Linked DNA regions of Homo sapiens. The protein of the gene in region 2 interacts with the protein of the main gene of each other region in a biochemical or structural test. Each region holds a gene or a part of one and is shown on either strand. Other genes may lie near its edges. The genes, in order: SUV39H1, BCL11B and NR2F1.

The links.
Region 1: the proteins of BCL11B (region 2) and SUV39H1 form a complex in vitro, tested with the Homo sapiens proteins (one study listed by BioGRID).
Region 3: the proteins of BCL11B (region 2) and NR2F1 form a complex in vitro, tested with the Homo sapiens proteins (2 studies listed by BioGRID).

The regions. Positions count from the first base shown.
Region 1 is NC_000023.11:48,706,650-48,709,582, forward strand, and holds the end of SUV39H1 (histone-lysine N-methyltransferase SUV39H1), read left to right. Parts: intron 1-787; coding exon 788-921; 3' UTR 922-2,367; downstream 2,368-2,933. UniProt on the Homo sapiens protein: Histone methyltransferase that specifically trimethylates 'Lys-9' of histone H3 using monomethylated H3 'Lys-9' as substrate. Also weakly methylates histone H1 (in vitro).
Region 2 is NC_000014.9:99,174,598-99,178,347, forward strand, and holds part of BCL11B (B-cell lymphoma/leukemia 11B), read right to left. Parts: intron 1,599-3,750; coding exon 1-1,598. UniProt on the Homo sapiens protein: Key regulator of both differentiation and survival of T-lymphocytes during thymocyte development in mammals.
Region 3 is NC_000005.10:93,586,074-93,589,823, reverse strand, and holds part of NR2F1 (COUP transcription factor 1), read right to left. Parts: intron 2,726-3,750; exon of another isoform or gene 2,594-2,725; coding exon of another isoform or gene 2,581-2,593; intron 1,908-2,580; coding exon 1,380-1,907; intron 1-1,379. UniProt on the Homo sapiens protein: Coup (chicken ovalbumin upstream promoter) transcription factor binds to the ovalbumin promoter and, in conjunction with another protein (S300-II) stimulates initiation of transcription. Binds to both direct repeats and palindromes of the 5'-AGGTCA-3' motif.

The DNA.
Region 1 (2,933 bases), on a different chromosome or scaffold from region 2:
GGCAGGGGCGCACTGTGACTTGGGACACAAGGACCCCTCCCAAAGGCACACCAGTCACTCAGAGAACCAAGGAAAATTCTTTAGCGGGAGCTTTAAGATGCTCTTCCTGACTCCCAGTCCCCCATTCGGACTACTAGACCCCTGCCTACCCCTCGAGTCCCCTCATTCCCAGCCCCTGAACCCTAACCCTGAGGCATTCATACCAACTTCTCCCAAGATTCCTGGAGAGTTAAGAAACTCCTGACTCCAGTCTTGACTGAGTTTCCCTCATCCCCCAGCCCCTCCCCACTCCTAGCTCCCTTTGGCCTTCTTCATCCCAAGCCTCTGGACACCCTTGTGGCCTCCAGCCAGTCCCCTCCTTGATAAGCTAGCCACCTCTGAGACCCTCAAGGGCAGGTCTTTGGCAGGAGAGTTCAGATGTACCTCTGGATGCCCAGGTGGCCCTCTATTCCTGCCCCTGCCCCCCCCCACACACCTAAAACGACCCTCCTGGTTCCTTGACGGCTCCCTGCCTCCCCCAGCATTCTTCAACCCCTGGCCTGAACAACCTCCAGTGCTGAGCCCTGGCCCTAGCCCCAAACCACCAACCCTAAGATCTCCCAACTCAAATCCCAGAGTTGCTCCCAGCCCCAAAGATCCTTGGTCTCATGGTATAAAGGGTAGTGGGACCCTTCATCCAGGCCTTCTAACAAGTCCCCTGCCTCCTTCCCTACCTTCCTCCCTCCCTCCTTCTCCCCCTCCCTCCCTGCCTCCTTCCCTCCTCTCCTCCCTGGCTGTGACTCCACAGTGGACCCCGTGGACATGGAGAGCACCCGCATGGACTCCAACTTTGGCCTGGCTGGGCTCCCTGGCTCCCCTAAGAAGCGGGTCCGTATTGAATGCAAGTGTGGGACTGAGTCCTGCCGCAAATACCTCTTCTAGCCCTTAGAAGTCTGAGGCCAGACTGACTGAGGGGGCCTGAAGCTACATGCACCTCCCCCACTGCTGCCCTCCTGTCGAGAATGACTGCCAGGGCCTCGCCTGCCTCCACCTGCCCCCACCTGCTCCTACCTGCTCTACGTTCAGGGCTGTGGCCGTGGTGAGGACCGACTCCAGGAGTCCCCTTTCCCTGTCCCAGCCCCATCTGTGGGTTGCACTTACAAACCCCCACCCACCTTCAGAAATAGTTTTTCAACATCAAGACTCTCTGTCGTTGGGATTCATGGCCTATTAAGGAGGTCCAAGGGGTGAGTCCCAACCCAGCCCCAGAATATATTTGTTTTTGCACCTGCTTCTGCCTGGAGATTGAGGGGTCTGCTGCAGGCCTCCTCCCTGCTGCCCCAAAGGTATGGGGAAGCAACCCCAGAGCAGGCAGACATCAGAGGCCAGAGTGCCTAGCCCGACATGAAGCTGGTTCCCCAACCACAGAAACTTTGTACTAGTGAAAGAAAGGGGGTCCCTGGGCTACGGGCTGAGGCTGGTTTCTGCTCGTGCTTACAGTGCTGGGTAGTGTTGGCCCTAAGAGCTGTAGGGTCTCTTCTTCAGGGCTGCATATCTGAGAAGTGGATGCCCACATGCCACTGGAAGGGAAGTGGGTGTCCATGGGCCACTGAGCAGTGAGAGGAAGGCAGTGCAGAGCTGGCCAGCCCTGGAGGTAGGCTGGGACCAAGCTCTGCCTTCACAGTGCAGTGAAGGTACCTAGGGCTCTTGGGAGCTCTGCGGTTGCTAGGGGCCCTGACCTGGGGTGTCATGACCGCTGACACCACTCAGAGCTGGAACCAAGATCTAGATAGTCCGTAGATAGCACTTAGGACAAGAATGTGCATTGATGGGGTGGTGATGAGGTGCCAGGCACTGGGTAGAGCACCTGGTCCACGTGGATTGTCTCAGGGAAGCCTTGAAAACCACGGAGGTGGATGCCAGGAAAGGGCCCATGTGGCAGAAGGCAAAGTACAGGCCAAGAATTGGGGGTGGGGGAGATGGCTTCCCCACTATGGGATGACGAGGCGAGAGGGAAGCCCTTGCTGCCTGCCATTCCCAGACCCCAGCCCTTTGTGCTCACCCTGGTTCCACTGGTCTCAAAAGTCACCTGCCTACAAATGTACAAAAGGCGAAGGTTCTGATGGCTGCCTTGCTCCTTGCTCCCCCACCCCCTGTGAGGACTTCTCTAGGAAGTCCTTCCTGACTACCTGTGCCCAGAGTGCCCCTACATGAGACTGTATGCCCTGCTATCAGATGCCAGATCTATGTGTCTGTCTGTGTGTCCATCCCGCCGGCCCCCCAGACTAACCTCCAGGCATGGACTGAATCTGGTTCTCCTCTTGTACACCCCTCAACCCTATGCAGCCTGGAGTGGGCATCAATAAAATGAACTGTCGACTGAACAAACCAAGATGTGAGGTGCTTGTGTGGGTGGGGGTTGAGGGGATAGAGGCTGGGAGCTGGGTTTGCCCAGGAACATGTTCCTCAAACCTCAGCCATTTGACTCTAATCCTCACAATTTCAGCCCCCACAGCATATCACTTACACCATCATCTATATAACATCTTGACCTAAAATAAGTTTGTTTTATACTTAAACTTTAAAATGCACTTAAGGCTGGGTGTGGTGGCTCACATCTTTAATCCCAGCACTTTGGGAGGCCGAGGCAGGCAGATCGCTTGAGCTCAGGAATTCGAGACCAGCATGGGCAACATGGTGAAACCACGTCTCTGCTAAAAATACAAAAATTGGCCAGGTGTGGGGGCATGTGCCTGTACCTGTAGTCCCAGCTACTCAGGAGCCTGAGGTGGGAAGATTGCTTGAGCCTGGGAGGTGGAGGTTGCAGTGAGCTGAGATCTCACCACTGCACTCCAGCCTGTCTGTCTCCAGAAAAGAGCCAAACCCTGTCTCAAAACAATGCAATTAAATTGACTGGTTTAGACTGGCCGTAACTGGTTTTGACTGGACTTGAC
Region 2 (3,750 bases):
CTCGGACGAGTGCTCGGACGACGTGGCGAAGGGCGACTGTCGTGCGTCCGTGAAGCCCAGGAAGGGGTCCTTCATGAAGTGCCGCGACGCCGCGTAGCCCACCAGCCACTGCGAGTACACGTTCTCGGACGGGATGAGCGCGGCGGGCGGCAGCTCCAGGTCCTTCTCCACCTTGATGCGCTTGGCGGCGCTGTTGAGCCCGGGGCTGGGCAGCGGCGCGGGCTTGCGCGGGAAGAGCCCGGGGAAGGGCTCGGTGCCTGGCGCGAAGCCGCCCCCGCGCCCGTTGACCGCGCCGCCCGCGCCCGCGTCCCCGCAGCCGCCCGCGTCGTCGTCGTCGCCCGCGTCCCCGCCGCCCGCCGCACGCTTCAGGAAGGCGCCGCGCTTCTGCTTGTCGGCCAGGAGCTCGCCGTACTGCGGCAGTGCGCCTAGGCCCACGTTCTCCATGACCTTGCCCAGCACCAGCGCCTTCTCGTCAGCCAGCGCCTTGGCCGCGCCGCCCCCCGCGCCCGGGACCCCGGGCACCCCACCACCGCCGTTCTCGCGGTTGCGGCTCAGCTCCGAGTCCATGCTGAAGCTCGACTCGGGCCGGCTCTCGTTCTCCAGTAGCAGCTCCTCCTCCTCCTCCTCCTCCTCCTCGTCCTCCTCCTCCGGCTCGTGGCCCAGCGACGGGTCGCTCTCGTGGTGGCGGAAGTCACCGTCGGCCGCCTTGAGGCCCTCGCCCGCCAGCTCGCTGGTGCCGGGCTCGGGGGAGCTGGCGGCCGAGAGCCCGTCGTCGGAGCGGCCGGCCAGCGAGCCGGCCTTGTGCATGTGCGTCTTCATGTGGCGCTTGAGCTTGCTGGCCTGCGAGCACGCGTGGTCGCACAGCTGGCACTTGTAGGGCTTCTCGCCCGTGTGACTGCGCCGGTGCACGATGAGATTGCTCTGGAACTTGAAGGTCTTGCCGCAGAACTCGCACGACTTGCTCTTGGCTGGCGGCTGCGGGGGCGGCGTGCCGCCAGGGGGCATGGGCGGCAGCGGCGGCGTGCTCAGGAACGGGGACTTGGGGCTGGGCTGGAAGGGGTTCAGGAGCCGGTGCATAGGGTTGCCGCGGCCCGGGGACACGGGCGGCGGCGTGGAGCTGTTGCCCGCCAGCTCGCGGAGCCGCCGCGAGAAGTCCATGGCGGGCGAGTCGATGGCCATGGGGTTCAGGCGCATGACTCGGTCGAAGGCACTGGGGTGCTGGGCGACGAGCCCCATCTCCTCGGCACTGAGGCGGTGCGGGTCCAGGTGGTGGCGCGGCGGGGGACTGAAGAGAGGCGGCGTGCCCGGCAGGCGGCCCTCGCCGAAGCCCGGGTGGTCCCGCAGGATGGGGCCCGTCATGCGCAGCAGGTTGAAGGGGTTGCTGTCGCCCAGGAAATTCATGAGCGGGGACTGCGCCACGGCCTCCGGCCCGAGCGGCGGCGGGATGGTGAGCCGCGGCGTGAGCGAGCTGCTGGCCGGCCCGGGCTCCAGGTAGATGCGGAAGCCGTGCGTGTTCTGCGCGTGCTGCAGCAGGAACCACGCGCTGTTGAAGGGCTGCTTGCATGTTGTGCAAATGTAGCTGGAAGGCTCATCTTTACCTGGGGAAACACACGGACAGAAAGGCAGAGACAGCGTGAGAAGCGGCAGCGGGGCGCGGGCACCGCAGGGCCACTGGCCTGGGGGACGCGGCCCGGGCTGATCCGGGATCCCAGTGCCCTGCCTGACAGGGGCTGCAGGGCCGCTTGCAAGCAGGCCCGGCCTTGTCTCCTCCTGGCTGGGGGGCCGAAGACGCAGGTCTGTGGGCGGGCCGCCCTGGCCACCCGGGCGCCAGCGACTTACTTCAATTGTGTAAGACCCGCCTTGCTCCCCCAAAGAAAAGGGATTCTGATCTCCATTACCTCCGAGGCCACGGGAGATCGTGTTTGTGAGAATACGGTCCAGTAGTAGGAATTCTGTCAAGGCTGGACTGTGTAACAGCCCTGGCAAATCCCAGCCCTCGAGGATGCTCCACACCCGAAACCATCTAGGCCAGGGCTTCTCAGTCAAGGCACTACTGACATTTACATCCTAATTCTTTGGGCGGTGGGGGCTGTCCTGCGCATTGCAGGATGTTTAGCAACATCCTCTGCCTGCACCCACTAGATAGATGCCAGGAGCATCCACCTCCCCCGGTTGCGAGGACCAAAAATGTCTCCAGGCCTTGCCGAATCTTCCCAGGGAGGGGGGCAAGATCACCGACCCCTTTGAGAACAACCAATTCTGATAATATTTGATTCCAGGGAGTTGTACAGAAACACAAATCAAACTGTACTATCCTGCAAACTTTTTTTTTTTTAAGAGAAATAGCTGCAATACCTCTGCAACATTTGGGATTTTTAGCTATAGGAAATTCTCGTGTTTCCTACACCACCGTCTGTGCAGAAAGCACTGTACACCTGAATATGGATTCCTAGGAACAGAAAAAATTTAACATGCTGTGAAGACCGGCTACTACTGTGACAGCTGCCCCCACCCCGTGTCCTCACACACACGCCCAAACACCGCTTGGAATTCCACCTCCAGACCCCAGGGAAGGCGGGGGCACACTGGCCTACATGAGTCTTTCAAAGTCCTCTGCCAGAATACTAAGCAATGAAAGAACATCCTCACATCTGACAGGGCAGTCAGGATGAACAGTGGCAAATGCTGATGTGTTAGCAACTGGCTCTGGTGACACGGGCAGCAAATTGTAGCGAACACTCGTGGTATGGAGCCAAAACGTCATCGTCTGTGTCCATCACTGAGACAATCACAAAATGGAGGCTGAACATTTCCTCCGGAACCCATCCTGCAAGTGCCCTCCTGCACCTGGGGGTGAAGCTCGCCGCTTTTCCAGTATGTACCTCTCCTAATGCTCTGCATAAAAGAGACGGTGCAGACAGGACCCGTCTTGCAGCATTGCACTCACTAGCTGGGGATGCAAGAGGAACAAGAATCCCAGCTCAGATCCAGCAGAAGACATGGCATGCGAGATCTTGAAAGATCCCTTTTGTTTTCTCAAACTTTCATCTACCTGGAAGATTTTAACACAGATGCTAAAGTACAGGGGCCACAAGCTCTGGTGAAGTCAAACGTGCAAATGAATGACCCTTCCCAATATCGGTAAGTTGCCATGGGAAGTGGAGAAAACAGTCCCCTGTCTCACTCTCTCCACCAATCGATTACAGGCCTTCTGAAATCCTAGGCAGACAGCATTTTTGTTTTCCACCCACTAATTATGTTTCTGGAAGGCTGCACTCTTAGCAGTGTTTATAGGCACATAAACTTTCATTTGGAAACCATCTTTTAAAAATCAAGTGACTCGGGGACCAAATACCCTGAATTCCATCCAAGGTCTTGAGTGTGGCCTGTGCCTCTGCCTGAAACTGGACTTGCCAGTTTCTGAGGGGCCGGGACCTCCCCAAGACATCGCATGCCTGCAGCGTCACAGAAGGCTTCGTGCTGTCCGAGGGGCAGGGTGGAGACTCCCCCCGCGACCTCAGAACCAGTTGGCCCAGGACACCAACACTAGAAACCGAGCCAGGCTGTTACAAGTTTGGCATTACATAGGGATTCTTTCCCTCTCCTCTCCTATTCTGTGTGTTTGGTGATGAGAAGACGGTGGTAGGGAGGACAGAAATGAAAAAGGAATTCTGAAGTTCGGCCTCATCCCTCTTAAAAACAGCTCAAGGAGCACCTCTGAGGCTATCTTCTTTCTCCAGGGTGTCTGGG
Region 3 (3,750 bases), on a different chromosome or scaffold from region 2:
AGATCGATATTAATACTACATTTGCTACATTACAATATTGTGCAAATTTAGGAGTCATTTTAATACAATGTAAATACAATTCTTCACACATGAAAGCCAAGAAATATTGATAGATTATACCATTGCTTACTGTTCAACAAGGCCTTATGAAAGGGATTTTGCTATCCCTGTTCAAGAATGGTTTTAATTTGGCCATTGGAAAGCCTGGTTCTAGGATAGATTTATTAGGATGGTTTATTTGTTCTCCGAATGGAGGAATTAAAAACAATACTGCCAATAATGGTGGTAAAACTGCAGCTAACCCTACTCACAGTGGGCAGGGCCCAAGACCCAGTCTAAGCAGCACTACTTGCCACCAGCCTCCTCTCTGGCTTTGTCTCTATTTCTCCCCATTACCTGCTGTCCTGGGTGTTTATATGTTTCCCTCTTACAGGTTACAATAATAAAAAGCGGGGATTGTTCTCGGAGGCTCAGACCAGAGCCCTTCAAAGGAAACGTTAATGCACTTTTCTGGAAGTTAATTTGAACCATCTATCATAAGAGAAATTGTTAACATGCATGTTACCACTGCCTACACATAATTTGATATTTTTTAAGGCACTCTTAAATTTCCAGTGTTCATGTGTTTTGCATAGCTTTGGAATTCATCTTCAGGCGGGGAATCCTCCCATACTTGCGGGTTCTACAGCATTGCTTTTGTTTTTTATCTTTCTTGTTTAGATCGAATCCGTTTTTTACGACCCTCAATAACCTCACCAACTGCAAACATGAATGGTTTCCGATAAGGGAAAATCAGGCAGCGATAAAGCGGGATTATTATGATTTATTTGTGCGTATTCTTCTCTTTCCACCTCTCTCTGTGTCTCTCTGTGTCGGGAAATTCATTCAAGGAGAGTGCCACACAGGGTAAGAAGCCACATTCCCACGTTCTCTTCCTTCCCTCGCCTCCCCCAGAAACGCTGAGCTCTGGCTCACACATAACACGCACCACACACAGACACACACACAGAGACACACACACACACACACACGCGCGCGCGCGCGCGCAGCCAGACGGATCCACAGCACCGCCCCCCCGCCTCAGACACACACCCTCGGCAGCCGCGGCCCCACGTAGGGGTCCGGGCGACTAGGCCCGGCCGCCCGCCGGCCGCACCCGCGCCGCCTCGGTTCCCGCACCGCCGCGCTCCCAAGATGGCAGCGGCGCGGCCAGCCGGTCACCGCGCGGGGGTCACAGACCCGGGCCAGGCTCAGTGTCCAGCGAGGGCCCGGCCCGCCCCGCACCGGCCGCGCGGGAGGCTCCGAAGGCCAGGCCCGGGCGGCGCGGGGCCTGCGCTCGCTGCCGGCGCGGCCTGCCCTCCCCGCGACCGCAGCCTCACCTGACGTGAACAGCACGATGGCTTTGAGGCAGCTGTACTCGGCTGAGTCGACGTGTAGCGCCTTGAGCTTCTCCACCTGCTCCTGGAAGATGCGGATGTGGTCCATGAAGGCCACGACGCGGTCGGCAGACATGGGCGAGGCATGCAGGCCGGCGGCGGCCAGCAACGGCGCCACGTGCAGCGGCATAGAGCACTGGGCCGCGTTGAGCACGAACAGCTCGCTCCAGGTGAGGCGTAGCAGGGACACCTGGTCGGTGATCTGCAGATCCGGGAAGAAGGGGATGTTGCGGGCCCACTCGACGGCGCTGAAGAGCAGGCGCGCGGCCAGCTCGCAGATGTTCTCGATGCCCATAATGTTGTTGGGCTGCATGCACTGGCTGCCGTAGCGCGACGTGGGGTAGGGCTCGGCGCGCAGCAGCAGCGAGATGTAGCCGGACAGGTAGCAGTGGCCGTTGAGGGGGTCCCCGTTGGTGAGTGCGTACTGGCCTGGATTGGGCTGGGTTGGAGGCATTCTTCCTCGCTGAACCGCTGACAAAAAGAAAGAGAGAAAAGAGGCAATGTGCATCCAGGGAGCTTGCGAACATTGCCGCGCCGCAGCGTACCCAACACAATGCAGAAGCTCTTCCCGCAGCCACACGCGCCCCGCGCATCTTCTCCGGCTCGCTCTCACAGTCCACACCGCTAGGAGATCTGGGGTGAGGCCCTCCAGCTCCACAGCTCAGTGTGTCCAGCCACTGCCTGAGCCCCTGGCCACGTCAGCCCCGCCGGAGCTAGGCCTGACTCCAGGGCCCCAACCCTGGCAAGGTCAAGAAAGTGTCATCCAACCCCTAAGCCACCACGGGGGAACACACAGATAAATGAAACCCCACTCACCCCTCCAGAATGGAAAAAAAAAATCAGGGTTAAAAAAAGGCGAAACCGGAGAAAGGTTGTGGTTCTAGGCAAATGCCTAGCGGCCTCCTCATTTGCAAGCAAGCAGCGTTTTGCTGATAAAATGTTTCCACATTCTCTTAAAATGCTATAGAATAATTCTTAAAATAGACACAAGTTACATATCCTACTAACCACTTACAACTTTTGAGTAGAGAACAAGTATCCTGCACCCCTCCCTTCTCCCCTCCTCCCCGTCGCCCCATACAAAGTTCTCACTATTAAAAGCAACAGAAAATTGAAAATTTTCAAGAAAAAAAGTTGAACTTACAGTAGCCAAACATTATTGAAAAAAGTAGGAAATATAATTAATGTCTGTCCTGCGCGGTGCCACTGCAACCTGCAGCCAGCTTTTGCCCAGTGAATGCACGAGCTTTCAACTGCAAAAACACTGGATTCATTAACCATCTGAATGCAAAACGTAAGCATGCTTTGAGTTCTTAAAGCTGACCAAAGTTTTTTTTTTTTTTTTTTTAAATGTGTATGTTTTACTTCAACAGTGCCAGCGTTTTAAATTGCCATATAAACAAAGACAACTTTAGGAAAAGTTAGGGCTACTGAACTCTTCCCCCAACAAATTAATATAGATATGTTCATGTACATGTAGCTATCTTATTTCAGGTTTTGTTCTATTTTCTTAAGTTTGCTTTGATTCTAATTTTAATGCAAGTTCCAGTGCAATTGAAGCTCTTGAAACATAATGCCTAGAATACTTTTTTCTAATTATAGTTTTGAACTTGGCAGTTATTTTTCAATTAAGTGAGAGTACAATTCAAAGTTTTTTTTTTTTCAGATGCCTACAAAATCTCCCTGGAGCTAGAAATGAAGTAGTCATATTTGTCTGCTCCTTGAGATCTGAAGGAATTCAATTTCTTTTCTTGTGGCATATAAAATATAATTTTAAAGTCAATTACAAGAAGGAGTAATCTGCATTCTGCAAAATTGACTGGTTCGCTAATTTGACTATAAGACATCTTTAATGATTGTCAAGAGATAAACTTTAACTGTAAACGGCTAAATATATTTATAAGAAAAGTACTGCATCTCTTGCCACATGAACATGAAGCATATCCAAATACAACATCAAAAGTTGTGTTTTTTTTTAAAAAAAACAAACCCATACAACACAGGGATTAAATGATGTGGAAGCTCATGCTAGCTGCAGTCTATGCATTACGGCCAAATCAGAAGGATCGGTAAATGCCGTTGTAAATTGTAATTTGTATGCAGTATTTAAGCAGAGGGTGGAGTTTGATGAAGAAATAAAACGAGTATCATGCTTTAAAAAAAATGACACAACTATGAAAGCACGGTTCAGTCACAAACTTTCCTTTCAAAGTAGAGGGGTGAAAACAAGGCCACAGCTCTGGAGGAGGCGGCCCCAGCTCCGTGAAGAAGAGAGGGAACCAGTGAACGGGCCAGAAGCCCCCCTTCCCCCCTA